2 separate regions of the Homo sapiens genome follow, and region 1 is linked to region 2. A link means that fine-mapping ties the variant in region 2 to the expression of a gene that starts in the linked region. Tissue or cell type: skeletal muscle. Region 2 holds a variant in brackets; the other region holds the start of a gene. All regions are shown on one strand. Distances are between the middles of the regions. Region 1 holds the start of ATP8A1 (ATPase phospholipid transporting 8A1). Region 2 overlaps ATP8A1 (ATPase phospholipid transporting 8A1).

Evidence for each region. PIP is the estimated chance that this variant, and not a neighbour inherited with it, causes the effect.
Region 1: it holds the start of ATP8A1, and the variant in region 2 is fine-mapped to the expression of ATP8A1 in skeletal muscle (GTEx, PIP 0.91).

Annotation. Positions count from the first base shown.
Region 1 is chr4:42,649,358-42,665,351 of GRCh38, reverse strand. ATP8A1 (ATPase phospholipid transporting 8A1) reads left to right here and starts at 8,247. Exons shown (of 37, transcript NM_006095.2): 1 at 8,247-8,527. The coding sequence starts at 8,479. ATP8A1-DT (ATP8A1 divergent transcript) reads right to left here and starts at 7,829. Exons shown (of 1, transcript NR_186688.1): 1 at 7,005-7,829. RefSeq lists enhancers at 7,811-8,020, 9,011-9,060 and a silencer at 8,051-8,520.
Region 2 is chr4:42,600,855-42,616,848 of GRCh38, reverse strand. ATP8A1 (ATPase phospholipid transporting 8A1) reads left to right here. Exons shown (of 37, transcript NM_006095.2): 5 at 771-816. Among named protein-coding and RNA genes, the nearest start is that of ATP8A1, 48 kb to the left of the region's middle. RefSeq lists an enhancer at 5,469-6,013. The variant GGT/T (reference allele first, on the strand shown) is at 8,565.

The sequences.
Region 1 (15,994 bases), 49 kb before region 2:
TCATTATTGTGACTTTGTCTCCTTGAAATAACACCTAATGTGACATGGTGAGAAAAAAAAGCAAGATTTTCTTGGGAGGTTTTTTTCCTTCCCTTTTTCTTTTTCAATATTGACTTTCTGGTCAACATCAAGAAAATAAATTATATAATAATATTTTTCTCCACTGGTTATCCTTTTCATACATCAAACATCATACCATACTGTTTTCAAAATAAAAGACATAACATGCAGTAGAAACAAAATGTTTAGTGTAAATTTTTAGATACATTGCAAAAGCCCTATAAGCAACATTAAAGGGTTTCTGATATAGGTGTGGAGGCCCAGAAATATTTGGGGATACAATCATTATATACAGATACAGCCTAGCTTGCCCAGAGTACAATATACCGTGGTAATTTTATATTTATTCACATAATAATTTGATTAGTATTTGTCTTCCTGATGCAACATACATTCTATAACAGTCTGGATCCTGTCTGTTTCAGCTGACCACTCAATTTCCAATATCCTGCTCATTATCTAAAACATGGTGGGCACTCAATAAGTTGTGCTGAATGCTGATGAAAAAGCTTATCTAGTTACAGATAAGAACCATTCCATGGGTCAAGAGGAAACTTTTGGAAGGAATGGATATGTTTCTTATCTTGAATGTAGTGATGGCTTCACAGTTATATATATGTATCAGAACTTAAATTCTACATGTTAGACACATGAAGTTTATTGTATATCAATTCTACCTCAATAAAGCTGCTTTTAAAAATGTCTAAATGTATGACAATATTATGTTGATTGTCTTATACACAAGTTCAGGGACTATTTTATAATAATACTTTGTATAGAAACCAGCATTATTGAAATGCTGTTTGGTAACCTTTGGAAAAGAAGCAGCACTTCTAATTAAGTATGAATTTTTCACATCTTGGCTCTGATATGCAGGAAACTTTTAAAGTAAAAAAAAAATAATTTAATTAATCTCTTTTCATCTGTTTGAAATAACGCTATTGAATGTAAGATCCAACACTAGATATTATGATACAGCAGATCATTTCCCTTTGAATGTGCATTTACTTTTTGAATAAAATACTCAATAAGTGTTTTTCCCAAAAGATTGTGTGTGAGTTGAACCTGATTTTAAATATCCTGGAGATACTAATTCTTTAAAAATTTCTTTCAAGAGTTCTTTCATATAATACAAAACTGCATTTTGAAACTCTAGTTTCATTTAAACAGGAGCAGAATATTTTCAATTATATTGAAGAAAACATTGTTGTACTTTTTTGTTGGAAATACCCAGTATATGCAGAAGATAATAACATTAAAGACACTATAACTTTGTATTAAGACCTTGCTAAGGTGTTTGAAAAGACAGTAGTACTACAGGTATGAGAAATGAATCATAGTTGTGAGGGAAAAGTATTGATTTTATCATTATGAGTAAGAATAAGTGACTAAATTATTCAATGACAGCAAATTTAGAACTTTTGGTTGAAATTGGTTTATATTTAAAATTTGATCACTTAATTTTGACATTAATTTTTGTGGCACAAGGTTTTGCTGATATCAAATACTCCAAAGCAAATATGTTCTAAATTATTTCATGCAAATAATTCTCACAAAATAATATACCCCAATAAACATACTTATGAAGGACATAACTTATTATCTCTTCAGATGGAACACTACCTATCCTTCTACTCATTTCCAGTTTCCAATCTGAGGGATCCAGTTCATTTACATTCATTCATTCAACAACTATGTATGAATCCTGGACTGTATGACAGACACTGTTGTTAAGGTTGAACAAATTGCAATTAGCAAGACAAACGCAGCGAGAACTATTTATCATAAACAGGTAAACAAACAAATAAGAAAACTCCACATAGTGATAAGTACTATGAGAAAAATAGAATAAGGCAATGTGGCAGTGTCTAGCATTGGGGATAGTGGGGCAATATTAGCTGGAGTAGGCTGGAATCATCTGAGCCCTGTGGACGAATGAGGGGCTAGAGAAGCTGAGTCTGAGAAACAAGCAAGGGCAGGATCATAAAGATTTGGTTTTCTTCCTGAGTGCCATGGGAAGCTACCAAAGAGTCTTAAGAAATAACATGAACCAGTTTGTGTTTTAAAGCAATAATAATAATGGTGGCTCCCGTGAGACGAATGGAAGACAGGCATAGAAGCAGGGCGACCAGTTAGAAAGTATGGCAGGCAAGCGATGATGGTGACTTGTACACAGGTGGTAGAGGTAGAGATAAAGTAATGTGCATAGAATGAAGGTACATTCTGGGAACAGAGCCTAAACATCTCGCTCGTGTATTGGAGGGTTGTGCATATAAAGGTGGTGACACAAAGTAAGCAATCAAAATGAAGAAGGCTGGGGCAAAGAAAGTCCCTTACAAGTCTAACAGTATAATGATACTTTAACCATACACTATGCATTAAATTAATATATAACACCCATGATTATAGATACCAAAGCCTAATCTTCACTTGGAATAACCAGGCAGCTTTGCTATTAGATAGAATTTTACATCTCAACCTAAATGTTAAACTAAAAGATGTTAATTATGTAAAACTTAAGATTAATTTACCCGTTTCTTTAGTGCTTCTGCAAAAGAATTGGAAGTATAGTGGCCAGCACTGCTTAGTGTATGTATTGTATGGTTGTGTGGTAATCCACTTTCCATGCCTCAATCTCAATCACAAGCAGGGTTCTCAGCCATGTCTCCAACAACCCCCAGGACATGAGTTTCCAAAGCACCTCCAGCTGCATTGTGAGTTAACAAATTAGTGAGCAAGCTTTTCTCACCTACTTGACTATAAGTTTCTCCCAAAGGGGACCAATTCATAATTTTGGGGGTCCCAGACAATGACAAACCAGGTAATATCAAGTAATTAATAAGTGCAATTCCTCCCAAGATAGGAATATCCTCTGATATCTCTTTTGGATTTTCTGGACTTGGTCATTTTTTGGCTGATGCCTTTGGAGATTTAATTTTAAAAAATTTTTAACAGCTTTATTAAGATATAATTCACATAACATACAATTCACCTTAATATAATCCATTAGTATATTTACAGAATTGTGCATCCATCACAATATTTTTTATTACCCTAAAAAGAAACTCTGCATCAGCTGTCATCTCCCAGTGCTCCCATTCCACCCCCCATCCCTCAGCAACCATTAATCTTTTTGTTTGTGTAGATTTGCCTATTCTGGACATGTCATATAATTGGAATCATACAATATGTGAGCTTTTGTAACTGGTTCTTTCACTTAGCATGTTTTCAAAGTCATCCATGTTATAGCATGTGTTATTTTATTACTTTTTATTGCAGAATATACCATGGTATGAATATACCACATTTTATTTATCACTTGAGGGACATTTGCATTATTTCCCCTTTTTGGCTATTATGAATAATGTAACATTTGTGTATAAATTTCTGTGTGGACATCTACTTTTCTCTTAGGTGTATACCTAAAAGTGTAATTGCTAGACCATATGGTAACTCCATGTTTAACATTTAATGAATTGCCAGACTATTTTCTAAAGCAACTTCACCATTTACATTCCACCAGCAGTATATGAGTGCTACAACTTCTCTACATTCTCTCCAACACAAAATTATCTATCTTTTTGATCATAGCCATTCTACTGAGTATGAAGTGGTATCTCAGGTTTTTGATTTGCGCTTCCCTAATAGCTAATGACATTGAGCATCTTTTTATGAGTTTATAGGCCATTTGCATATCTGCTTTGGAGAAATAACTATCCAGATCCTCTGCTCATTGCTCATTTTTAAATTGGGTTGTCTTTTTATTAGTGAATCATAATAGTTCTTTTTTTTTCTTGAGATGGGTTCCTGCTTTGTCTCCCAAGCTGGAGTGCAGTGGCGTGATCATGGCTTAGCTCCCTGCAGCCTCGACCACCCCAGCCCAAGTGATTCTCCCACCTCAGCCTCCAAATAGCTGGGGCCATAGGCGTGCACCATCACGCCTGGCTAATGTTTTAATTATTTGTAGAGACAAGGTCTCAACATTGCTCAGGCTGGTTTAGAACTTTTGGGATTAAATGATCCTCCTTACTTGGCCTCCCAAATTGCTGGGATTACAGGCAAGAGCCATGTCACCAAGCCTCATAATCGTTTTTAATATAATCTAGGTACAAGTCGCTAATCAGCTATATGGTTTACAAAAGTTTTCTCCCATTCTGTGGGTTATTTTACAATTTCTTAATGATGTATTTGGAAGCACAAAAGTTTGGTTTTGTTTTTTTGTTTGTTTGTTTGTTTTTGAGACAAAGTCTCGCTCTGTCACCCAGACTGGAGTGCAGTGGCACGATTTCAGCTCACTACAACCTCTGCTTCCTGGGTTCAAGCGATTCTCCTGCCTCAGCCTCCCAGGTAGCTGGGATTACAGGCACCCACCACCACGCCCAGCTAATTTTTGTATTTTTAGTAGAGATGGGGTTTCACCATGTTGGCCAGGCTGGTCTCGAACTCCTGACCTCAAGTGATCCACCCACCTGGGCCTCCAAAGTGCTGGGATTACAGGCATGAGCCACTGTGCCCAGACAAAAGTTTTTAATTTGATGATGTGCAATTTATCTATTTTTTCTTTTGTTGTTTGTGCTTTTGATGCCATATGTAAGAAACTATTATCTAAGTTAATAAATATTTACTATTTTTCTCTGAAGAGTTTTATAGATAATTTAACTTTTACATTTTGGGTGTTTGATCCATTTTGAGTTAGTTTTTGTGTATGATACAAGGCAGGGGTCCAACTTTTTTCTTTGGCATGTGGATATCCAGTTGTCCCAACATCCTTTGTTGAAAAGACTATTCTTTCTCCTATTTAATTTTCTTGGCATGAAAACTTGATTTCCAATCTGTTTAGTTCCAGTAGTGACATCCTCTTAGTTCTTTTATTGTATTTTTTTCCTTTGTAATTTCAACTATCATTTACCCAACTCTGGGTACCTGACAGTCACCTCTGATTTGAATGAAGTTTAAACCTGAGTCTGTAGGCCAATGAAGTTCCATTGATGTCCACACCCTGCTGTGACAGTAGAACAGAGTAGACGTATTTACACATACTTTATTTTCTCTAATGACTTAAAACAGCCATCCTAATTCAAAGAGAAAGCTAAGGACATGTTTTCCCATTTAGTCCTACATGGCACAGTTATTGGGAATGTAATGAACATCTGCCACTCAATGTTCATTATATTAGAACATAATTTACTTAGTAAAGTTGAGGAAAATTTGTGGCAAAATTCAAGGGAAAAATGTCAAAAAAAAACCCACAAACGCTTAAAAGTGGGCATATTGGGATTCCTAGCATCATTCATTTAGAAGGCTCATTAGGAAACAAAAGTATCCTAAGATGACATTGCAGACTCTCCCAAATCTGGCACCTTTAGTCTCCATACATGGATTCCCAGTGAAAAACCTTTACTGTAGTCAAGTCAGTCTCTTTGTTCCTGCCAAATATATATGCTCCTCTATCACTCCACTGACCTTAAACATTCATTAAACAATGACTACCAAGCATTCCCACTAGAAAGAGGTCTCCTTTTTATTTCTATAGAATTAACCCCTACTTTAAGATCTAGCTCAACAATGTTGATCACCCTAGCTCTTAGAAACTTAGCTTTCTCTCAAAGTCCATAGTTGCTGCTTGTCTATTTGGCATGACATATTAGCCATCTTGTTGCTACTGCTGTTTAGCTTTCATTAAGTGCCTCTATAACCTAGTTCTCTGGCTCAGCACCTCACACGTGTTACGTATTCAATGTACATTTTGTGGAGGATAAAACCTGGATCTTAGGGAAGTTGTCCTTAAATAACCCTCTTCCTTCTAAGTCTATCAGCAGTATAGTCATATGACCTGAAAGATTTTAAATGATCTTGCTGACATCTGAATTCTACTACAGATTCCGTGACAAAGTCATGTGGCTGGAACCGGAGTTCCCTGCCAGGGGCTGGCACATTGCACTTCTCACACAATAGAAGGTGAGACGATCTGAGAGCCTTAAAATCAAGCAGATGCAGATTAATGCAATCCTCAACTTCAATCAAGTTCTGAACCAATAAAAATGTGTGATTTCTAGCAGTCAGGAATGAGTGGTTTTTAAGAAATAAGGTAGTTGGGATACGCTTGCCATTATGGATAAAGTGATAATATCAGGGAAAGGACACACGGTAATCTATAGACTATATCATGCAATATTCTTCTCTGTATAAGTGACTTGTTTCCTGTATCAATGACGTTTTCAACTTTGCTGATGAGTTAATGGGACACACATGTAAAAAATGGATTGCTCTATACAAAACAGAGGTAACTTCTGGAGTTCCTTCAGTTATTACTTGTAAATAAGCAGAATTGAACCTCAACCCCATCTGAGGACTAATTAGGAATTACAAAGGTGATTGCTCATAAATGAACTATCGTCATGCTGCTGCGCACTGATTTTTAATAAGAACTGGTTATGGCTTCATATAGAATTACACCTAAAATGTTAATCAGAAAAGCACTGCATTTCCTCCAGTTTCTGTTCGCTAACTTTTAAAGCTGATTATTATTTTTACTATTTTCCTTGCTATGTTAGCCCTTTAATTTTGTTTCAGACTCATGTTCATTAAGCCAGAGCAAGCCTGCTTTATACAAGGAGACCCTGGGCCTTGGAAGAAATAAAAATGCCCAGTGATGACAGTCCAGATAAAGCTGTGTTCATTTTTTACGTTTAGAAGACCATACTTTAAATCATGACTATCACTGAAACAGATAGATTCATTTATTGTTGAGTCCTGCTTTACCCTGAGATGTTCCATGAACACTGAGAATACATTTTCTTTGTTCTAATTCCAGCCTCTGAATCAGAGCCAACTAGAGTGGGCTCTTCATAAATATGCATTGACTGCCTGAGTATTAATGTAGGGCAGGGCTCTGATTAGCAAGTGCTACCTGCAGGAAGCAGAAGAAATACCACAAATGGAGATAGGACGCTATTAGCAGATTTTATTTCATTTTTTCCTGAGGCTTGGAAATAATCACTTCTCTCTCAGGTCAAACCTCTCCAGCTCTCTCCCTTCAGGATGTGAAAAGATCTCAAATAAAAGGCCTCTATGTGAGGATCTCTTTCGCTGGTTGCTGGAGGAAGAGCATGAAATGAGGGAAGAAGCAAATTGCTTCTGATTTATTGTTTCTGGTTTATTCCTTTCCTGCCAGTTCAGCAGCTCGCCAGAAACAGCACAAAACCTTACATCTTAACTTGAAGGTGAAGTATTTGTTTTGACAACTTTTTAGCATAGATCTCGGTATACAAAATAAAAGGTAATGAGGCTATGATAGTCTGAAGGACATCGGCAAATTAAAATTTAACATATTTATGGATTTTATACAAAGACTCCTCTCCCCTTTGCAGATAAAACGACTGCATCCAACTTTATGCAGATTTAACTAAAAGAAAAAAAAAAAGTCTTTTGTGAACCACCTGGGCCAATACTTAGTTGGCTTAATTGCTATTTCAGTGCCTTGTCAGGCTGCAGAGCCTGAACTAGGGAGATGCACCGGGCCCACTTGCAGGCGGGGCCCAGATGCACCCAAGCCCCATGGACAAGAGCACCATGGGCACCAGGGGCCTCCCGACCTGGCAGCCTGTTGCTAGTGGGCGAGGCAGGAGGACAAGTGCGGCTCAGGCCACGAGTCGGGCTGGGCGTGCAGAGAGGTTAGAATTACACCCAGATGGCGAACAGTCAGTCGTTCCTTTCCTGCTCTGGCTGGGAGCTAAACCTTGTAGTCCCAGACCCTTTCGCCTTCGCCTGCCGGCTCAGACCCAACAGCTCTTTCCGGACGACGGGCGGCTCCACTGCGATCAAAAGCCAGGGGTAGCGGGAGGGGATTCGTGAGAATGCAGCAGCCAGAGCAGTCTTTCCTTTCTGAGCAAGATGTGAGAGAGTCCGAGTGGCCTGGAGGAGGAACCGGGTCAACCAACTCCACAGGGCGGAGCGAAAACGCTGGAGGACTAAGGAGGCTAAGAGTTGATCCCCCCTTTGAGTCGTGATACGGTCCGAAGCGGGGCGGGGCGGGGCGAAGGAGGCTCCCCCTGGCTCTCCCCGCCCCTCACCCGCCTTCCTTGCTGAGCGGCCGCGGGAGGGGGAGCGCGAGCCCCGCAGGCCCCTCCCCCGGCGCCGGCGCCCGAGCTCCGCCCCTCGCCGAGCCGCCCCTCCGCGGCTGCAGCAAGAGCTCGCCCAGCTCTGCGGGCGCCGCCACCTTCGCCGCCACCGCTGCCTTTCTCCTCCTCCTGTCGGCGTGCGGGGGCCGCGCCCGGCGGCAGCTCTGCCCTAGGTGGGCGGCGGCGCGGCCCAGGCTGCAGCTGAGCGCTCTGCGCGGCGCAGCCGGGTCTCCCGCGTGTACCACGCCGTGACAGGTGCAGAGTCCGGGCTGAGGACCCACCTGCAGCCGCCGCCGCGATGCCCACCATGCGGAGGACCGTGTCGGAGATCCGCTCGCGCGCCGAAGGTAAGGGGCCGCCGAGGCTCGGGGCTAGCCCGGGGTCGGGAAGCGAGTGTGTGTGTGAGCGTGTGTGTTTATCCTGGAAGAGACCGCATCCTACCTCTTCCCCGGCGGCAGTCCGACTGTCGCGCCCGGCCCCTAGGGGACCCTTCCCCCCGCGCTGCCCCCAGTGTACTCGCAGACCCTTTCCAGGCTCCAGTACCCTCGAATGGGTGTTCTCCGCGGGAGCCCCGAGGCGTGCTTTGCACCGCAGTGTGACCATTAGGTCCCAGTCACTGAGCTCACTCGCCCTGCCCACCTCCCTCCCCACCAGTTCGATTTCCACTCAGCAGATCCCCAGCCCGCCGCCCCTGCCTCCGGCGCCCACCGTTTTGCAACCCCCTATCTGAGCTCCCAGCGAAGCGAGTTTGCTTTTCCCCGGCTGCAGGATCCTTTGATCCGTAGTCCCTTGGCTCTCGAAGCGCGGGGAGCCTTCATCGGGGTCGGGTGCCGAGTGGGTTCCCTGCATTACAGCTTCTGCAATTCTGCCTCCTGCAGCGGAGTCCCACCGGCTCGCGTCTGAGGTTTCGTTTTTGTGTTTCCCTTTTGCCCGAAACCCTCACTTCGGCCAGCTGAGCTGACTTTTCAGCCAGGTGGAAGCTGTTTTCTTTGCTCCACCTGGGGCCAGCTCTTGAATGGCCATGGTTGTCAACACTGAGCAACAGATGCTCCGGGGTAGAAGCAAGTAAGCTTTCCGAGGGCCCAGACTCTTCATCGTCTCCGAGGAGCCCTCAACATCCTGCCTGCCATGTGGCAGGCACTCTGTAAATATTATTTGATTTTGCTCGCGTCAAAGCCAAGACTGTAAATATCCCAAGGTTTGTTTGTCCTCTCCCATAAACCTGTACTTGAATCCTGCAGAGGGTGGAATAACATGTTTTTCAGAAATCTATCTTGCCATCATCGCTGATTCCCACTCTTCCTCCCCACCTCCATCTTTTAATGTGAGACAGGTGGTGAAGTGGTTTTAGAAAAATATATAAGTTAGGAGAATTGGATTTCAGGGATGGAGACAGGCCATTTTTTCTCCTTAGGGGCTCCCTGTAAAAATAGGGTCCCTGAAATTTTCTGATTGCAGTATTTAGGAAATATTAAATGAAACTGCTGTGGGGAGAAGACGAAGCAAGATTCAAAACTGGCCTGTGTACTACATAGGAATTCGGTACATGCTGTCATTTGTAATACCCAAAAAATACTTATATAGGGCATTATAGTTTTACATACACAGTTGAATACATTATACTTTTAAAATGCACACTGTAAAAATTCATTTTTTTTACACTTCTGAGTGAAATTAGTCATAGAGATAGTGAAAGTAGAATGGTAATAGTTGGTGGTGTTCTTTTAAATAATAGCAATTGATGGGTCCTATATTGTGGGAAATAAGGGGAAGAGAAAAAGTCTGAGAGCACTGCAAAACCTGTGGCATGTGAGGGGATTACAGGGCTGCAGTATTGTTCTTGATTGGCTTGTGTATTTTCCAAAGTACTTTTACAAAGATTACTTTATGGAAACTTACAACACTCCTGGAGGTTGGTGAAGGTGGAGTGCCATCTGATAGTTGAGGAAACTGTGGCCCATATGGTTTAGTAATTTGCCCAAGGTCAAGTAACTAGTTCAGTGACACATTTGGATTAAGAGCTCTGGGAAAACAAGGACTGCTGCTTGTTTAATCTTTGTATTCCCTGTGCGTCCAGCACAGTGTCAGGGCCATAGTGGTGCTTGGTGAGTGAATGACCCTTTCCCCTGAGATTAGTTGATTCCAGTTTATTATAGCTTCAGCATGTGCTTGGGACTGTGGTGAAGACAAATAATGACTCTGTGGGGCTGGCGTTGTGGCTCATTGCCTGCTCTGCCCACACTTTTCTTTCCTAGGAAATATTTCTTTCCTAAAAAATATAGTCCTACCTTTCCTAAGGAATATTCTCCTTTGAGAGAGGCCCTGCTGCCTAGAGGGCCTTGTTCTGAACTGCAGCCTTTTTGGCCTCAGCTGATTGGACTATGGTTGGCTCCTGACCCAGGGTCAACCAATTCTTATGTGACTCAGACACTTGTAACCTTGTGGTTTGGCTCAAAAAGAGTCTCTGTGTTAATCATATCTCTCTTGAAAACATTAAAGTTAGAGATTTAGAGTAAAAGCAGAAGGGAGCAGAGGTGAATAGGCTGGTATGGGAGAGAATGGGTGGCCATAATAAGTCATGGGAATGCTGCTGATAGAAGAAAGCAGAAACTATGAGTGAGTAGAGAGATAGCAAAGAAAATGGAATGGATGGGCAGACACAGATCCTGAGAGAGGGTGGCGAGACCTTGGAGCCTGCCCTCCCGAATTTTATAGCCCTAGTTCCCAAGTAGCATTAAAATAAGCTCTTTTCCCCCCCTTGAAATGACTTGAATGGGTTTCTGTTCCCTTCATCCAGATTGGCCAGATGTATGACTGTCATGCCTGTAAGTTGTTTACAACCAAACTGGGGAGAAAGGACTTAAAGAGGGAATAAATAGTCTAAGAGGGGATGTTGTTAATTAAATATTGTGCATGCTGTGGGGGACGCAGGACCTGTGGAAGATTAGGAATTTAGTACATACTTATTACTGAACATAAGGCCTGCTGAGTGAACATTTCATTGAGGTGTGATTTGAGATGAGCCCTCACACAGTGCTTCTCAAACTCGAAGGTTCATAGGAATCACCTGAGGATCTTGTTAAACGCAGAGTCTGATTCAGGAGGTCTGGAGTGGGGCCAGAGTTACTACATTTCTGACAAGAATGTAATGCTGAAGGATGCTGGCCTGCAGATCACAGTCTGAGCAGCAGGATCCTAAAGGATACTGACATCTATTTCTGTAGTTAGGAGAGTGTTGAAGACAGTCATAACAAGAACAAATGGGGAAAGTGAACATGGCTTATTTCAGAGTTCTTAAGGAAATTGGCCGGGAGCAGAGGGAAACTTGGAAGGAGCAGGCTAAAAGTTTGGATAGGTAGATTACTGCCAGATTACAAAGCATTTTAAATGCCAAGGTGAGTCATTTGGACACAGGACCGAATATTTGAACAGGTTCTTAGAGTTCATTGAATCTAATTTCTTATTTAAGCCTAACTCCAATATATAATATCTAACAGGGCCAGTTGGGGGCCACATCGTTATAAGGGAGGGACATCCTAAAAGTAGTAACTTAGTTAAGTCTGGAAGTGTGTTGGCTGGTTTGGAGGAAAAGGTATGGTAGATAGACTCTTTTGCAAAACAGTCTTAAAATGACAAAAGTCAGAATTAGTATTAGAGTGGAACAGTGAGAATGGGAAGGGAGGAATCAGATTTCTGACTGAATCATTAACTCATTCAGCAGATGTCTACTGAACTTCAACTACTGTTACAGGCACTTGGGATACATCAGTTAACAGAAGAGGAAAAGCATGGCCCTGGAGGTGCTTACTTTCTAGTGAGGCAGGAGACAAAACACACACAAAATATGCTAATTATAGAATTTGTTGTGTGGCAAATGGGGAAAATGAAGAGAAAGCAAAATGTTTAAGGTGGGTGGATGGATTGCAATTTTAAGTAGGTTAGTTAGACTAGCCCTCATTGAAAAGTTGGCATGAAGGAGATAAGGGAGTTGGCCTGGTGGGGATCTGGGGGAAGGGTGTTCCAGCCAGAGCAAATGCCCCAAGGCAGGAGAGAATCGGGAATTAGGAACGGTGAGGGGAAGAATAGTAGGAAATGAGGTCACAAAGGTCATTGTGTTAGTCCGCTCTTAGGCTGCTAATAAAAACATACCCAAGACTGGGTAATTTATAAAGACAAAGAGGTTTAATGGACTCAGTTTCACATCGGGAATTAGGAACGGTGAGGGGAAGAATAGTAGGAAATGAGGTCACAAAGGTCATTGTGTTAGTCCGCTCTTAGGCTGCTAATAAAAACATACCCAAGACTGGGTAATTTATAAAGAAAAAGAGGTTTAATGGACTCAGTTTCACATGGCTGGGGAGGCCTCACAGTCATGGCGGAAAGTGAAGGAGGAGCAAAGGCAAAAGAGCGTGTGCAGGGGAACTGCTCTTTATAAAACTATCAGATCTCGTGAGACTTATTCACTGTCATGAGAACAGCACGGGAAAGACCTGCCCCCATGATTCAGTTACCTCCCACCAGGTCTCTTCCACAACACTTGGGGATTATGGGAGCAACAATTTAAGATGAGATTTGGGTGGGGACACAGCCAAATCATAGCAATCATATTATAGGACTTTGCTATTTAGTGAATATTTAGTAAACATAGGGCAGGAGAGAGAAGGACTTTTTTGAAAAAAGCAAGTCTCAACAATAATTTAGAATTCTAATATTAATAAGTTACCATGGATCTTATTGGTAATAGCATATTGATATTTTATTAGTAATAACATTGGTAGTAGGTTCATAAATTATCAGGGATCTTATTGGGCTGGCTTGTGAAGATTTAGTTGAGTAAATCTGTGGTGGGCTTGGGGATTCGCATTCTTAATGAGCCTCCCAAGATACCCTGGTGCTGGTGAAACACATTTTGAGGAAATTTCCATTACAGTCTTGAGCTTGACTGGTTGAGAAAATCTATTAAACAACAAGGAAATTGGGAAGGAGGACTAATAAAATAAGAGATGATACTAATTCAAATTTTGAGGTAACGGGGACATCCAAATGGACATGTTTTAAAGGTAGTTGGAAATTTTTAGGTGAGATGTGGGAAACCTCAAACTTGGGAATCTTGAGAGACAATAGTTGAAACCCTGATAGTGGAAAAATTTGCCATAAGGCAAGAGTAGATAAAGCAGAAGACTAAGAATTTTAGGTCTCTTTATTTAGCTGCCCCAGATAAATCAAATGGGTGTTTGAACTTAGCATTTGAAATCTGGAAACAGACTGAAATAATGGTAGCTTACACAAAATAGTTTTTCTCACTCCTGTAAAACTAGTGTGGAGGTAGACAGGGTTGGCTGTGCCTGCTACACAAAGTCATAAGGGATGTTGGCTCCTTGTGCCTTTCTGCTTCACTGTCCTGAGAGTTTGTCTTCCATAAAGTCACAGCATGGTTGCTGGGGTGCCAGCCATCATGTACAATAGTTTTAGCCAGGAGAAAATGGAAGGGTGAAAGGCAAACAGGTTTTTCAGAAAGCACCACACAAAAACTAATGCTTATTTTGCATTGGTTTCCACTTGCAGGGCAAGCTGGGAAATGGAAATTTCCAGCTGGACACATTACCCAGTGTTGTGTTACAAACGGAAAAGGGTGTATGGTTATTGAGCAGTGCATTAGTCCATTTTCACACTGCTGATAAAGACATACCCGAGACTACTCAGCTTGGAATTCATTGTATCATTATCAGCATTTTGGGTCAAAGCCATTCAACAAGTCTCTAGGGAGTTCCATACTTTCCCACATTTTCCTGCTTTCTGGGCCCTCCAAACTTTTTTCAACCTCTGCCTGTTACCCAGTTCCAAAGTCATTTCCACATTTTCAGTATCTTTTCAGCAGCACCCCACTCTTCTGGTACCAATGTACTGTATTAGTCTGTTTTCATGCTCCTGATGAAGACGTACCGAGACTGGGCAATTTACAAAAGAAAGAGGTTTAATGGACTTACATGGCTGGGGAGGTCTCACAATCATGGCAGAAGGCAAGGAGGAGCAAGTCAGATCTTACATGGATGGCAGCAGGCAGAGAGAGCTTGTGCAGGGGAACTTCCATTTATAAAACTATCAGATCTTGTGAGACTTATTCACTATCACAAGAACAGCATGGGAAAGACCTGTCCCCATGATTCAGTTTCCTCCTACTGGGTTCCTCTACGACATGTGAGAATTGTGGGATTTACAATTCAAGATGAGATTTGGGTGGGGACACAGCCAAACTATATCAGGCAGACAACAGAATCAGTCACAGTGAAGTTCTCAGATTGCCAAAGGCTCTTGCTTGGATAACATAGAAACTGCTCTGGAGCTCATACTTTACATATAATAAGGATTAAATTGTTCAGAACTAAAGAAATGCACACACACAAAAACTTCACATACCTATCCAGTGGTTTGTGTTTTCTTCTGTTGAATACTATAATGCTAAAATATAATGACATTTATTTGATTATGTAAAATATGTGCTAAACGATGTATCCAGAAGTTGTTTTAGGAATTGTTTTTCTAAATGGCAACTCTAAAATGTTTGTAACTATGTAGAATAGTATGTTTTATTTACATAAAAGGTAACAAAAGGAATAAAAAGTAATTTAAGCTGTCCTTAAAGGAAAAATTTTAGGACGCTATTCCAGGTAAAAGATGACTAAGGTTTTTGTTCCTTTAAAAACCACTTATTATGCACCAGCTGTGTGCCAGCTAAATGGGTGGTGGGACAAAAGGCTGTGGTCGATGAAGGAGGTCCCAAAGGAAACATGGAGATGAGTATGGAGATGAGTTCAGTTTTACCTGAAGTGGCACTGTGTGAGAAGGTGTGTATGAGTATAGCGATACAGCATGTCATCAATATTTGAAAATCTCAAAGTAGGTGTCATTTTACTTAGTGTAATTCTGGAGATATAAGTGTATTAGATCTGATTATTTTAGGTTTTCTATCTTCAGTGCAGAATTCATGGTTTGTTTTTTCTGTCATTTCAAAAACAGAATTGAAGCATATACCTAATGTTACAGCTGTGGGAATGTTTGCAAAGGTCAGAGGACACTTTTGAAGTTAACGAAATGTTTGCTGCGTGGGTCTCTATTCACATGGTTTCATTGGAATGTCAATGACATGAAGGCCACCACTTTCCCCTTCATTCTTTACTTCTTAGCGAAAGGAGCCCAAACCTTCCAATGATTGTATTCTCCGGGTAGTAAGCTCCCTAAGGGCAGGGGGTTTTGTCTGGTTTGTCCACTGATATATTGCTCCCCATGAGGACATTGCCTGGCACATAGTAGGCATTGGTTAAATGAATGAATCTATGTCCTAAAGATGAAAATGCCTTATAATCCAATTTGTAAAATACTCAGAGCTAAATCTAGATGTACTAAATCTAGTACCCTCCTACTGAAACCTTAGCACCCCAAAGGAGCGTTTTTGTGAGATTTGTTCGCTGCTGTACCCTCTACACCTAGAGTTTTGTCTGCCACATAGCCACCACTCTATATTTGTTGAATGAATGGATAACTCTGAGCTTTGTTTTTAATGGAAGAGCTTAACTATGAGTCTTGATAGAAGTACTGCCTGCTTACTGGGAAAAACTCATGCTTCAGAAAGTCTTGCAGGAGAGAGTAAAATTCATCACAAACTATGCCATCCAAATATAATCACATTGTGATTATAAACTTTTATATACTTCATATAAATTTATATATTTACAATGTTAGAATTTTAGTATATGTCCTTCCCAACTATTTTCCAGAAAAGATATATTTGTTAGGAAGAATGAGGTAATCTGCAT
Region 2 (15,994 bases):
CAGATTCTCACCTTTCCTCTGACCTTCTGTTTCTTCTTCTTACCCACTGCTATAAAACCTTGGCTTATGCAACTCTTCAAACCTACCTAGACTTAGACTAACTCACTTGCTTATTGTGTAATTTTGTAGGTGCTCTTGGGAGGAAGGAAGATATGATAAGATTATGTAATTCAATGGCTTTCGGTTGCAAGTGGTGGGAGGAGGGAATGCTGGGGAGCATTGAACAGGGGAGACTGTATGCCAGTGGTAGACATCGTTGGTTCAAGTCATTGGCCGACATCAGCATATCATTAAATTATAGAGGATGTGCTCAGCTTAATTCGGTAACAAATTTCGTAAGCTGAAAATATTTCAATACTATTATTAAACAGTAGTTATTATAGATAATTCTCTCAGGCAATCTCCTTTTTGAAGTGAGTTATTAAAGCAAAATACTAAATCAACCTTTCATACTTTTCTAGTACATTAAAATTTTAATCCTACCTATGTGCCGAGGTAAGATCCTTGTGAGGACCACAAACTTATGCTCTCAGAAGAGGAGCACTCTATGGAGATACTGGGAATTGTTCTTTCAGTTTTAAAATTCCTAGGTGTGCTCTAATTCTTCCCATCACCACTCCTCCATCAATGTATACTTTAACATTGACATGAATGAGAAATGATAAAAACCTTGAGAAACATAAGCTAAATCTTTTTTGGTATGAGTGCTCTCTTGTTTTAGTAATCTTATTCACATTTTCACAGTTGTTCTTTTTGCTTTTAAACTTTAGAAACGACATAAAGCTGATAATGCAGTGAACAAGAAACAAACGCAAGGTAGGAATTTTACATGCTTTTTTCTCATATTTGTCAAACCTACTTGTAGTATATACAAACACTTCAATTACATATAATTCAATTGCAAATAGTGTGCATCTCAAGTTTTTGTTTTGGGGTAGATTGATTTTTGCTTTGTGGCATTTGTTAGGATGACACTTAAACTCACTTTAAAGTGATTTATAGTGATAATACTTTTGAAAGCCAACATTTTAAATATATTTAAGTGCTTCATAGCAATAGTCTCTCAAATACAGTCCATAAAGTCTGCAGTTGTTTTGACAGTGTTAAATATTATAAATTTATTTTGTTTGTAATCTACAGATGTTATTCTAGAAAAGATGTATAGAAAATAATCACATGTGATGTCACTTGAGTGAAAAGCATTTTGGAAACACTGAGTTATACATGCAGATGACAGACACTCCAGAAATAAAACAAATACAACCCGGCCTGCTTCTGTACAGTGCATGGCATTTTGGCACAGCTCTTTTTGGATGGGGCTCATTTTGATACAGCCAAAAGCAAAATGATCTTCAATACAAGCAAATTCGCCATCATGCTCTAAGATTTTTTTTTTTTAATGCCCAGGAATGTGAGAAACAGACATCTTAGCTCATCTCTGAATGAATTTGCCCCATCTGAGAATCTCATCTCTGAAGTTCTCTGATGTGGTGAGGATAAGTGATGTCTGCCAACATTATCTGGTATTTAGGAAGACTATTTTTATACTGCTGATATTTCTATGGAGTCCTGTCAAAATTCCCTGCTTCTTTTTCACCACCTCCCACAATAGGCATTATATGCCAATTTTTAATACATTTAAGGATGATATATTTACTAATTAATAAATTTGCAAAATATTTACTGAGAGTATTTTATTATGGAACATATAAGAAAGTATAAGACGGGAATTTCAACTTACAACTTATAAAGAGCTTATAACATATTTGTTGAAATAGGTACATGTAAAAACATGTAAAAGTACAAAGAGATGATCTGTGTGGAAGATGAAGGATTTGGACTACATGATCTCAATTATCTTCGGATTTTTGTGGCAAATCATAGTTTCTATGTCAAGTGCTATAAAAATTGGTAAGGAGAGAAAACTGTGGTGTATCTTGAGCTAGACCTTGAATTTTAGGAGGACATTGGATGAACAGAGAGGAATGGAGAAGATATTTTTATGTGTGGGTTGAGTGGGAAAGGAGGAAGAGGGGTTTTTCAGGAAAATAAGACTGTAGGACTCCTTTGCTGAACCATTATTAGACTGCCAGGCGCAGAAAGGAGATTCACATCAGAGGGAAACAAAATCATGATTTAAAAGGTAGGCTGAGGTTGAATTGTATAGGGTCTTGAAGGCTAAGCCAAGGGGATTCCAATATTTCTTGTGGATATTGAGTCGCTGTTGAAGGTTTATGAGCCAAAACGAGACAGGCCGAACATGTGGGTTAAAGATGGAAGGCAGAATGAACAGGAGTAAGGGACTGTTAGAAGCCTGGGACAGAGCTACTCCAGGAGTTTAGTTGTGAAGGGACAAACACAGGAATTGAAAGGGAAAAAATCCAGACGTTTCAAGCCTGGTATTTTTGGCAATATGCAGTTTTTGCATTTGTTGCCGTATTGCTCAGAATATTCAGTAACAGCTTTTGAAACAGAAGTACATAAATGCTTTTCCAACCCATAATGTATCTTGTAGCAGAGGGCTCCTATGTTCAGTGACTGGCAATTATTGATTTTCAAGCCTTGGCTCAAGAAGTTGACATAGTACAGTAGAGGTGTGGTCACCATAGCTATGATGATTTTGGGCTACCACACAGGTGCTCCACCCTTCTGGGTACGTACTTACCTCCAAAAAAAAAATTCCTTGCCTACCATTCAGATAAAATTTTATTTCTTGACTATCCATCTTGGTTCATGAGTCCCCTTCATAGATAACAGGATTGGCCCTATGGCTAAATATGAGAATAGGCAAGTGAGAGGAAAAGCTTCTATAATAAATATATATAAAACTCAATTCAAAAATGAAATATTAGGGCTTAGCTATAAAAGCCATTTCAGTCAACAGAATACACTTCATATCTGTAGGTTTCTCATCCTAAGATTCAACCAATTGAAGATCAAAAATAGAAGGAAAAAAAAAAAATGAGGCCAGGCGGGGCGGCTCATGCCTGTAATTCCAGCCCTTTGGGAGGCTGAGGCGGATGGATCGCCAGAGGTCAGGAGTTCAAGCCCAGCCTGACCAACATGGCAAAACCCCATCTCTACTAAAAATACAAAAATTAGTTGGGCGTGGTGGCAGGCGCCTGTAATCCCAGCTATTCGGGAGGCTGAGGTAGGAGAATCGCTCAAACCCAGGAGGCGGAGGTTGCAGTGAGCCAAGACCGCGCCACTGCACTCCAGCCTGGGTGACAGAGAGAGACTCTATCTTAAAAAAAAGAAAAACAATGCAACAATAAAAAAAAATACAAGTTTAAAAATATAGTATAACAACTATTTACATAGCTATTTACATATTTACTATTTAAATTGTATTAGGTCTTATAAGTAATGTAGAGATGATTTAAAGTATATGAAAGGACATGCATAGGTTATATGCAAATACTGCACCAGTTTATTTAAGGGACTTGAGCATCCATGGATTTGTATCCATGGGAGGTCCTGGAACTAATCCCTCATGGATATTGAGGGGGGACTGTACTTTCTTTCAGATCTTATAAGTCCCATATCCAAGAAATTATGGCTTTTATGTTGGTAGTTGAATTTGTTTCCTAAGAGAATAGTATATTTTTGTTTTCCCCTTTGCTGCCTTTGAGTATTGGTCTTCTTGGTTTGGCAGTTGATAGGAGATAACAAAAATGTTCGAGTAGGATACTGTTTGCTGTCAGATAATTCAGATTGCTTAACATGAAAGCCATCTGTTATTAGGCCAGAATGAAATTCAATTTGCTTTTCTGAATTGAGGCAGAAGTGGGTGTATAGGAGTGGGGAGGGAGGAGTATTTTTGACAGGTAATTAATTTTTGATGGACATCTGAAGCATCCAACTCATTTTCATTTTGTCAGTGTTTGTCAAGTCCACATAATATGTAAGAGACATTTTTTTCTCAATCAAATGTTAACCCTTTTATATTCACAGAGGAATGAATATTTTCTCTCCTTATGTGAGGCATCAGAGGGTAACACTCTCATTCCTTAGCAACTTCAGAAATATAAACTTGTCTTTTTATTTCCAACATTTTCAACCGTTTAACTGAAAACTGGTGCTTATTGGATGCCCTGTTTTCACTGATAAGTTAACTCAATCAGGGATCGAATTATGGAGCTGAGACCTAACTCAGAACCTAAAAGTTGTCAACACCACTTCTGGAAACAAGCCTTGCCCCAGAGATATATAAGCTGGTTTGGTTGATGATTCAGTGACCTGATGAATATAAAATTGTGTACTGTTTTCCAACAACCTAGCTGCAGAGAGAAGACAGAGTAGGTTGACGCTCAGAAGTCCAGGGATGTGAGTGAGTCTTGATGAGTTTTATGGTCCACTCCACCCAGAGCACTGTGGCTGCTTCTCTTTGCTCCAGTGTTTTTGTTGTGTGATGGTTTGTGCATACTAGATAGGAACACTACAGAGGGAAGGTCCAACTCTTACTCAGCTTTGTGTTCCCAATAGCTCCCAGACCAGGATCCTGTCTTAGTAGGTGCTCTCTGTGTGCATGTTAAATGAACGAGTAAATGAACCACTCTCCAGATAAATACTTCAGTATACATAATAAAGGAAGAAGAAAGACTGGAAATGAAAAGAAGCCTTCCTGAAAATTCATTATCTGGAGTGCGAATAAGATGAAAAGCAGTATCTTCATAACACTGTGTCCCAGACTTTCACAGTCACTGATAAAATCCAAATATGGCAGAAGTTCTTGCCACTTTATCTTCTCTGTCAAAGTCATTATATTATCATTTAACCCTTGCTTCACCTTCTGTCAATACAATAGTTTGTCTACTGATCCCTTTCATTACTCAAAGCACTGCCCTGTTCAGAATGCGCTCATTTTCCTTGTATCTAACCTTACTTTCATTTCCTCTGATCTCTTCCCTCAGTATTTGAACTCACATTTTGGCACAGCCTCCTCCATGTGTCTACACACACAAGAGGCCATCTCTCATTGTTTTCTCTGAGATGAGTTGTTCTGCCAAATATATCTTTGCAGAAATTTATAAATTACAAATTTATAATTGTTATTCTAATATGCACATTGAAGCCAGTCCCCATATGAATTTATTGTGGTGATTGAGCTAGTTTTTATTTTAACTGGTAAAAATATGCTGTCGTTTTTTATGAAATGCCATGATGGCTAGCTTGTCAATATTTCAAGTGGAATGACAACTTCATCTAAAATCACAACATGGGGGCCTGGGAAAGGATGGATGGAGTTCAGGTGCAAACTAAGGTATTTGGGAAAATTTGTAAATGCTTCCTAATGAGTAAATTTGCTTTTTAAAGCCCCAGGTGTATTCCCTGGACGATGGTCTGTATACATTCTGCATATGAGAATGTGTGGGAGATAGAGCTGCGATCCTTAGCAGCCCATTGATCAACTGGTTTGATGCTATAGTTAAATGAAGGCTAAATTGTTTAATATCGTACCCTATTTTATTATGATACTAAGCATTAGAATAAGTAATAAAGCAGTTTTCTGATTATTTAGAAAGGGTCACATGAAATTCTTTTAAACTAGACACATAGCTAAAAATAATAAATCGACTCATATTCACCTTATCTTCCTTCCCCAGAGCTACATCAATCAGCCTTTTCTGAATGGAGTTGAGTGAGTGACAGCTGATAGCCACTAACAAGACTACTTCCCTGCAGGGCGCATAGTTGCTTATCTCCCACTGGAAACCATTTCAGCTTTAAAGTCCTTTGTGAAAAAGGTGTTGAGTTGATGTGGATTGAATGTGTTGCGGGTTGTTAAGCATGAAATGACCTACTAACAACAAGGCGGAGTTCATCTGGTTCAATTCATTTCAGTGCTGTTCAAAGAGATGTATTATGCTAAGGGACTTAAAATAGCAACACCTTTCTTGCCTGCTGAAAAAGAGAGTGTTGCTCCCTTTTTGTCTCTCTGGAGGTACCCCCACATCTGCTCTGTTCGGTAGACCTGAACATATATTCTGCCACGTGTATGTTGGCTTACCTATAAATGGTTTTTAGAAAGTAGTGTTTCAGTGATCCTAGGGACTTAAAATTAAGCATATTTATGGCCTAAGTAATTTCAGACATCTATAAGCTTTATAATATTTTCAGATTGTCACAAAGATCTGAGTATTATGCAAATACTAAAATCTAACCATTGAACTGGTTAGATGTCTTCAGCAGTAGCTCTGGATGGAGAGGAGATATTTGTGGGGAAAGACAGCTCCAGGTTGTCTTTCACTTTTTTTTTTTTTTTTGCACACAAAGGAGCAAAACCCATTGAGGAAATTTGGGAAGATGGTTAAAGTGAGAGGACTGATTTTATGGCTGGCTTTATGACTTTGCTCTGTGCTTTATTCGTGTATGTGCATACTCCACTCACATTGTCTTTTATTTTTAAATTTAAACCAGGTAGTCTGCTTTCATGGGAATTTTTCTCTCTCCTGTTTTTGCCAAACCCAAATAAGTTATATTAACATATTTTCTGGGAAAAATGGGTGTGATTCAAAGTTAGAACATTTGTTATTTTACTTCAGAAAGTCTTTATTGAACATCTTTCTTGTGTAGGACCCTGTGTAGAAAATGCAAAGAGAAATCATACTTGTCCTACAGGAAATTATAATCTTGTCGGGAAGATAAGATGCAGACTGATATAATTCAAGGTAAAAAAAAAAAAAAAATTAAGGGCCAAATGAGAGATGTAGGGATTCCAAAATGCCATTTGAGGGGTTCATGAAGTAAGAGTGGAACTTTGGTAAGCAGATATCAGGGTAGTAACTGTGAGTGATGCAGGGTGAAAGGACTAATATGAGCGTTACTGTGGAAGTGGGAAGACATGAGATGTACTCTGGAAATAGCAAATAGTCTGTTTTGGCCAGGGCATAGAATCCATGTCATGAAACAATGAGGGACAGGGACAGGGAGGCAAGTTAGGGTCATTTTTCGGAGTCTTTTGAAAACCAGGGTGAGGAACTTGGATGGAATTCTGAAAAGTATGGATAGGCTTCCACTTGTGCTTTTGAAAGAATTTGACAGCTGTATGGAGAGGTGGCAAGGAGAGGCACAGAGAGATTGATTTTCTTATTAAGGAGGGGGACAGGTTGTGTCAAGTAGAAGACAAAGGAAAGCACACAGTGGATAGATTCAACTGGACCTGGCAATGGAGAGAAACCCAGTCAAATACCAAGTGCTGCCAAATCAAAAGACCAGGACTGAGACACCCACTAAATCCAGCATTTAAAAGAAGTAGCCGTTGTTCATTTTTCTTAACTAGAGAGTAGTCGTGGAGCTCTGAAAACTGAAGCCAGATCGCAAGGAGTTGTGGAATGACTGATGGGTGAGGCAGTGGAGGGAGATTTTTCTTTCAAGGAATTTCTCAATTAAGCAGAGGAAAAAGTGAGGGACTCATGACTGTGAGCAGGAGAAAGGGAAAGCATTTCGAGAATAGGGTATTGCTGGTCTTTGTGCTCCGATCACATCGTGCCACTTATATTGATGTTTAATAAGCCATTGGTTCTCAAATTTGGCATCAGAATCCCCTGGAGCATTTGTTAAAACACAGATTGCTGGGACTCACACCTAGAGTTTCTGTAGGCCTGGAGTGGGGCCCCAGAGTTTCAGTTTTAACCTCTCAGTGACACTGCTGGTGAGGGGGTCGTGCTTTTAGGACAACTCATTTAAAGGTTGTATAAATGAGTTGATAGAAGTAGTATCAACCAATTTGACATCAATATATGTATTATTATGTGTATTACATGATTGAAAGAGGAATCCAGGAAGTTTCCATTGTCTTTTGTGTCAGTGGACACTAATGGTTCAGCCAAGCCCCTGGTGGTTTAATGTAACCTTTATAGGCAAGCTTATACAAGAGACTCTTCCTGTGCCATGTCAGTTTGTGCCACACTGAGGCTTTTGCCTTAAAGTTGTCTTTGGAAGTAAGAGTCTATATAGTGAATAAAATAATATTTTAATGTTGGCATATTGGCTTTCCTTCTTTGCCCCAGTCAAAGCCATAGTCTCAGCTATACTACAGTCCTTGATGACCTAAAATTCCTCTTAAATGCTGACTCAGAGGAATTGGAGCACACTACATTTTCTGTGGTTTTACTATTCCTCTATGACAACAGTAGTGTCATTGTCTTTTTGGATGACTTGCCTCTTGTTACCCACTTAAGAAATGATAGGCTGGGTGCGGTGGCTGACGCCTGTAATCCCAGCACTTTGGGAGGCCAAGGCAGGCAGATCACAAGGTCAGGAGTTCAAGACCAGCCTGACCAACATGGCGAAACCCCATCTCTACTAAAAATACAAAAATTAGCCAGGTGTGGTGGCACGCACCTGTAATCCCAGCTACTCAGGAGGCTGAGGCAGGAGAATTGCTTGAACCTGAGAGGTGGAGGTTACAGTGAGCCGAGATCGTGCCACTGCACTCCAACCTGGGTGACAAAGCGAGACTCTGTCTCCAAAAAAAAAAAAATGATATTATTGCCCGGGGAGGGCACCCCGGTGACACTTTCAGCAGTGGCCCCAGTGGTAGACCATTCTGATTGGGGTGG[GGT/T]GGGTGGGAGGCGTGCTTCTCTCAGAGAAGCTGATGTTAGAGTGTAAGTCAGCACCTGCACCTGTGCATTATTTGATTGGGTCCTGAGAAACTGGCCACTTCCTCCAGGGCCTTTGAGGAATCCCGAATGTTCTCTAACAGAATGTTTTCATTCAAAAAAGAAACCTATTACAACAAAGCTGTTACCTTGTATCCTGCTGAATAAAAACAAGTTACATTTGAGGTAATTGTTTAGTCTGAGCTCTCCCATGGCAGGACTGTCAGACTAATTAAGCTGTTAGAAAACTATAACAGGTGTGTTTGGTTGGAACTGGTAGAGGAGTTTTGCATTTAAAACAATGAGCTGTCAAAGCACCATACCACTAGCCATTCTGACAATCCTGTCGTAACTTATTCCTACTCCCCTTCACCAGGCTTCTTTAATCATCTCCTCTAGGCTCTTAACGCTTTCCATATATTGGAGGAATGTCATCTTCCTAAATGAAGGTAGGGAGGAACACAGTCACCTCCTTGTTGAAATCTAATCCAGTTACATTGTGACTGGTTTCTTGAACACATTCTAAATGTACAAAATTACATTGGCCTTGGCTGTGTAATGTGAGGTTTACCTAATTCTCTACTGAAATGAATACATTAAAAAAAAAAAAAAACCTGTAGAATCAGAATAGCATCTCTGTTACTTTTGGCTCAACAACCCTAAATGCTCATCACAGGCTGGGCATTGTTTCTTGCTTTCTCTAAACTTAGGTTTGTGCCGGGTCAGAGGAGGTTGATGATTTAAAAATACCTAGATTGCTAATTCAGTCACCAGCATAATACATGTGGTGGTGTTTATTTTCATTGTTCTAAGGACTGGGTGTTTAAGAACCAGTTCTAAAAGATAACAATGAATTATAGGATTGACTAGTTTCCTTGGCCAGTGTTCAAGTCTTGATTTGTATGGAAACTTTTTTTTATGTTGTGAGCTGATTTTTAACTTTATCAGAGTATACTCATCTATATTCCAAGAAGACACTAGCCTCAAGTTTGTGTATTTCCTTTCTTCATTTCTGTATTCTGGTTTTGTATTTCAAGAACACAGTAAATGGGGGATGGGGTAGAAGTACGTCCTCATTTCTAGGGAGCCTACCAGCACTGCAGATGCAGCAGGCCCATGCAGCAAGTGTTGAACAGCAAGGTTCTGTAATATTTTCAAAGAAGCGTTACTCTATTTAGTTAGGATTCCAACCCAGTGTAGGGATGTAAAGGTAATTTATACTTTCATTAATCCAGACCACTACAGCCTTCAGAATAAATATCAAATACTCATCAGACTGACAAAATTCAAGGAATGGATAAGTTTGTGCTTGTCTCAGTTTATAGTCAGTGGAAATTTATACATTGCTGGTAAAAGTATGGAGTGCTGTAGATTCTTAGGTATCTGGTTGTATCTGATAAAATTACAAACTCAAATGCCCCGGAGTCAGCAATGTTCTCTGGGGCATTCTCTCTTACAGGGTACAATCATGTGAATATATTTCATTGCTGTGGTAGTAGAAAAAAATAGAAGTCAGAATTTGCACCAGGGGGAGAATAGTTGAATGCTTTATGATGCAGCTGTTGTGGAAAATTGAGTTGTCTCACACAGGGCAAGGACAGCTCTGTGCCTATCTCTAGGACACCTGGAAGTGTGATGCTGAACACTGCCTAAGACAAGGATGAGACGGACTAGCTGGTGATTTATAATGTGCTGTTTAAGGTTTGAAACTCCCTTGTAGCCACCCAAGACTAGCTTCTCTACTCAGTTTAAGCATATATAGAGATTGATGGCTTAACTAGTTTTACTGGCTACACAGTTTGCCTTGGCTAGTCAACTAGAGGGTAGAAAAGACGCCACTGGAAACTTTTGCCTGGGCTTTCCTGAAATTCAGATTTCACATACATACCATGGAGCTTCAACACCCGTGTTGAGGGTGAAAGAGAAGGGATCCTGGGGAGCCATGCCTGTCAGTCTCTCAGGCCTCTGATGCTTTTCTGGTCTTTCATTTTCCTGCTGTACCATATCCTTTGCCTTGAGTAAAGTCTTCTGTGAATACATCCTGTGAAGTCTTGTGTGTCCACCTAATTATCCAACCCGTTGTAATTGACACATCTGTGCCATGGAGTATTTTCCAAAAATGAGTTAAATATCTCTGCTATTCATTAAAGTATTTATGGCATGTTGAGTGGAAAACCAAGTGGCAGAGAAATTTTAAAAGGGAAAGAAAAAACAAGAATGTCCATGTTTGTCTAGAGAAAGGTGTGCGAGGATTCATCAGTTAGTACTCCTTACTGTGAGAAACTGGCCTTGAGAAGAGGAATGTCAGCTTTTACCTTGTATACATACCTGTCTTGCTGGAAACATGTATTGATTTTGTCATTTGGTAGAAAACATTGAATATGTATTTAAAAGTTTCTTAGATGTGTACATTTGGGCAGTATGCCACATTTTTCTAAGTATTTCTCCAATAATGAATTGAGAGAGAACATTTGGGTGGAGAGGAGAATGCACTGTTTGGCTGGAGACAAAGATTCGCAAAAGGTCGGTTGGAGAAAGGAGGTAAATAAGTTTGAATGTGGAGAGAAAACTGATCAGAGCAAGGTTGAGGGAAAATGAGCACGTACAGAAGATGGAGGCGTCAAGCAGATTTGAAGGAGGACGGCAGAAGTGCAGCAGATTTGGAGGCGGTTTTCCATGTAAGTGCCACTGGCTTCCACTATCCGTTATTGAGTGAAGACTCTCTGGCATAATCTGTTGGATCTGAGAAGCCTGTTGTGACACTTCCCATGTGTTAAATGGCACCCAACAAAGTGGATCAGGGCTATTTTTTACATGTGAACTAACAAACATCTGTAAAGTCACAGCATGTTGAGGAGGGCTAGATTAAATTACAGAGCTGGAAGGAGTGGCCCTGAGCTGATACCAGAGAACAGTTTGTGTTAGTGCCTCTGAGGGTTACATAACCATTTCTAACTGCTTGCACTGAAAATTGGTTTAGTCACTTATAAAACTGAGATGTCTATTTTAAGCAAATGTTAAAATAGTTCATTGGCATCTTTTTCTGTAGCTATTTTTTAATTCAGTTATAGTTCACATACCATATAACTCACCATGTTGAAGGATACAGTTCAGGGGTGTTTAGTGCATTCACAAGGTTATGCACCGATCACCACAACCTTAATTCTAGAACATTTTCATTAATCCAAAAAGAAACCCTATACATGTAAACAGTCAGTCTTTCTTTCTTCCTTGAATCCCTTGCAATCACTAACCTACCTTTTGTCTCCATGGATTTGTCTGTTCTTGGCATCTTATGTACATGGGATCATACAATACGTGGCCCTTTGTGTCTGGGTTCTTTCACTTAGCATATCTCCAAGATTCATTCATGTCATTGTATCCACACTTAAATTATTTTTATGGCAGAATAACATTCCATTTAATGGCTATACCACATTTTGTTATCCATTCATCAGTTGATAGACATGTGGGTTGTTTCTACCCTTTGGCTATTATGAATAATGTTTCAGTGAACATTCATATACAAGTTTTGTGTGAACATATGTTTTCCGTTTGCTTGGGTATACACCTAGTAGTAGAATTTCTGGGTCTGTGGTAACTGTGCTTAACTTTTTGAGAAACTGCCAAAGTATTTTCCTATACAACTATTTATTAAATGTCATGTTTATGTTATTTTTAACATGAGCCCTACTAGGTAGTGGAGTTGTATCTTCAGTAAATCTATAACTGTTGCAATGGTTTTATATGATCCTATGACAGATAAGAATATTAGTGGATCCAGCATTCCACCCAGTTAGTACTTACTGAGCACCAGTGTGTGCTGTGTGATAACACTGGAATGGTAACAGTGAGTATAATAGGGAAGGTTTCTCTTGTCATGGATCTTATAATCTGGGGGAAGAGACAGCCCTTAAATAATCCTGTTTAATTAAGTATACAGTAAAACTGTGATGCTGTGATAAGTGTTCTAAAGGAAAAGTGCACGGAGCTCATTTAGATTTGGGGGTGAGGAGGAAGGACTGGGTGTCAACACAATGTCCCCTGAGAAAGTGCTGTTAAAGCTGAGATCTACAAGGTGTGTGTACAAGTTAACTAGGTGAGGATGGAGGGAAAGAGAATTCTAGGCATGGAAACATGTGCAAAGGATTTGAGACAGCAGAGAGCATGGTGCGCTCACTACAGAGGGCATAAGGAGGGTGTGTTGGGAGTGACAAGAAGTGATGACAGGAAAGAGGCAAGAGCTGCTTCATAAAAGGCCTTGTAGATGTTTTGATTTATTTTTTGAGCCTAGGGAAGCCAACTGAAGAGTTCTGAGCAAGGGGTGACCCAAGTTTGTGTGTATGGACTGATACATAATAATATGTAATTATAACATTTATGTAAAATCATCATAGATAATCCTTATAGCTACACTGTAGAAACTGAATTTGAAAGAGATTAAGAATGAATGCAGGAAACTAGCCTGAGGCTAATACAGACATCCAGTTGGGAGGGGGTGGTTCCTTGAACTAGGGGTGCTGATATTGGTGATGGTGGAGAAGATTTTTAAAATATTGGCAGATTTTGAGATGCTAAAGGCATAAAATCAACAGGAAGTTTTTAGTAGTAAAAATTATTCCAGAGTTTCAAAGGCATTTTTCTGTAAGAGTTTTAAAATGGGATAAACAGGGAGGCATATGAGCATAATAAAACTGCCAAAAAATCATAATGCAGCATTGTTCACAAAGAGAAATTAAGTTGCATCAAAAGCATTGCTACAGAAACAACAAAATAAAAGTTAAAAAAACCATACCCAAACTAATAAGTGAAGTAACAAAATTACAGGATGACAAGGTCATTCATTGTACAAAAATTTAATGCATTTCTAAATATTGCCAATGACTGGAATATAGAATAAAAAATAACCCTCGTGAGGTTAAGAAAAAACATAAAATATCAAGAATTAAATCTAGTGAAAGACCCATTCACAGAAAACTACAAAACATATCCAAGAAAAATTAAGATGTAAATAAGTACAGAAAGATAGCTTGTCCGTGAATTGGAAGACTTGAGACCCAAATCAAATTCCAGGAAGATAGTGTGTTCTCTGGAGCTTATTCATCCTGTCTAATCTGAAGTCTTAATCTTCATGTCAAATATCTTGATTTTAGAAATATTGGACACTTATAGTTTTTTTTTAAAAAAAACTAAGTATTACTATTGGGATAATTACTAATATGAGATAGGATCCGAAGGAAATAAGTGGCAATACAGAGCTCTAGACACTATTGACCAGTTTTTCCTAAATTAATGCAAACTTATAGCCCACTCACTCTGTCAGTTGATCTTGGGTGTAGTTGATTTGAACAGGACTTTACCATCTCTCTTTGTTACCATCTCTCTTATTATATTGTAGCCACTGGGTTACATAATTAAAGGGGAGCTCTCATTTATTTATTTATTTATTTATTTTAATTTTATTTTATTTTATTTTTGAGACGGAGTCTTGCTCTGTCACCCAGGCTAGAGTGCAGTGGCGTCATCTTGGCTCACTGCAACCTCCCCCTCGCGGGGTCAAGCCATTCTCCTGTCTCAGCCTCCCAAGTAGCTGGGACTACGGGTGTGCGCCACCATGCCTGGCTAATTTTTTTGGTGTTTTTTTAGTAGAGACAGGGTTTCACCATGTTGGCCAGGCTGGTCTCGAACGCCTGACCTCAGGTGATCCGCTCACCTCGGCCTCCCAAAGTGCTGGGATTACAAGCGTGAGCTACTGCTCCCAGCCCTCATTTATTCTTTATGCTTTGTTACAACTTATTTTGAGGAACATACTGTTGGACTCTGGCAGAGACAGCACCTCTTGCTTTTCTACCGGAGGCTGTTTTGACTCCGGGTCAGAAACACCAAACCCCTACTGCTCCATGAGCAACATCGAGCAGGGGATTTACTCCTGGGATCAGTTTGGGTGAGCTCTGCAGGCATTAGAGTCTTGTGTTTCAGGATCCAGTGATCAATTTAAGGTGCCTGTGCTTTAGATCCTTGGTCCGTAACTGTTTAAGCACTGTAAAAATTGGTACTTTAACTTCTGCGGTTAAGATATTGTGCTGGAAATACTTTATTTGAGCTCTCTCTAGCTTGGAATGATTATTTTTTTAAATTAATGAAGTTGATTCACCAAAATGCACTGTGAGGTATTCATTAATTTGTTTTATAAGCATCTGAATGTCCCATATACCAAAAGTGCTGCAAGTACAAGTAATAAAAAAAAAATGGCTAAGACATAATGTATGTGTTCAGGGAATTTAGAAACACAGATAATATTTTAATTTAAATAATTTATATTGTGAAACACTGAGTTCAAAACATTTTTGTTTTTAATTAATATTAAATTTGCTGTTTAACATTTTGGGGATTATTATTGTGATCGCTTTAGAGGGTTCAGGCTTCATCTATCCCAACATCAAAAGAAACTGAATCTGTTTTTGTACCTATAAATTATGCATTTTGCAAATACTTACTGAGTAGCTACTGTGTGCCAGGTACTGTGCTGTTTCCAGGGAATATAATATTAAAACAAATATTAAATGCTTTTCCCTCATGGAATTTACATCTGGATAATTTGTTGATGGGCCTTGACATATTTCTCTCCCTAAGTACTAAGTGCTGTGCCGGCTACCTCACATACTCTCTTATCCTGTTTTATTTTTATTTTTATTTTTATTTTTATTTTTTGGTGTTTATTAGCATACTCAGTGTTATAGCACAGACAACATCACAGGAAAAAAAAATTATACTGGATAACCCTACTGATGTGAAGCAGTAGCGAAACCCTAAGAAATACCTACCCCCCATCATAATTTAATAGTAGCCTCTTCTTCTGCCTTTTTTTTTTCTTTTCAGAAAACCAAATATAGAAAATTTGGATTTTTAGGGCCAGGCGCGGTGGCTCACGCCTGTAATCCAAGCACTTTGGGAGGCTGAGGCAGGCAGATCACTTGAGGTCAGGAGTTCGATACCAGCCTGGCCAACATGATGAAATGCTGTCTCTACTAAAAATACAAAAATTAGCCACACATGGTGGTGCATGCCTGTAGTCCCAGCTACCTGGAAGACCGAGGCAGGAGAATGGCTTGAACCTGGGAGGCGGAGGTTGCAGTGAGCCAAGATTGTGCCATTGCACTCCAGCCTAGGTGACAGAGTGAGACTCCATCTCAAAAAAAAAAAAAAAAAAAAGAAAATTTGGGTTGTTTTTGCTTTTTGTCGCTGTTTGTTTTTTTGCATTAATATAAACCTAAAGGTACAAATTCTTTCTCTGTTGGCTTTATGTGTTAAATTTTTACTAAACTATTAGAAATCTATTATTCTGTGCTTGTGATTTTTCTTTTTAAACATTGCTACTCTTGTAGCATCTG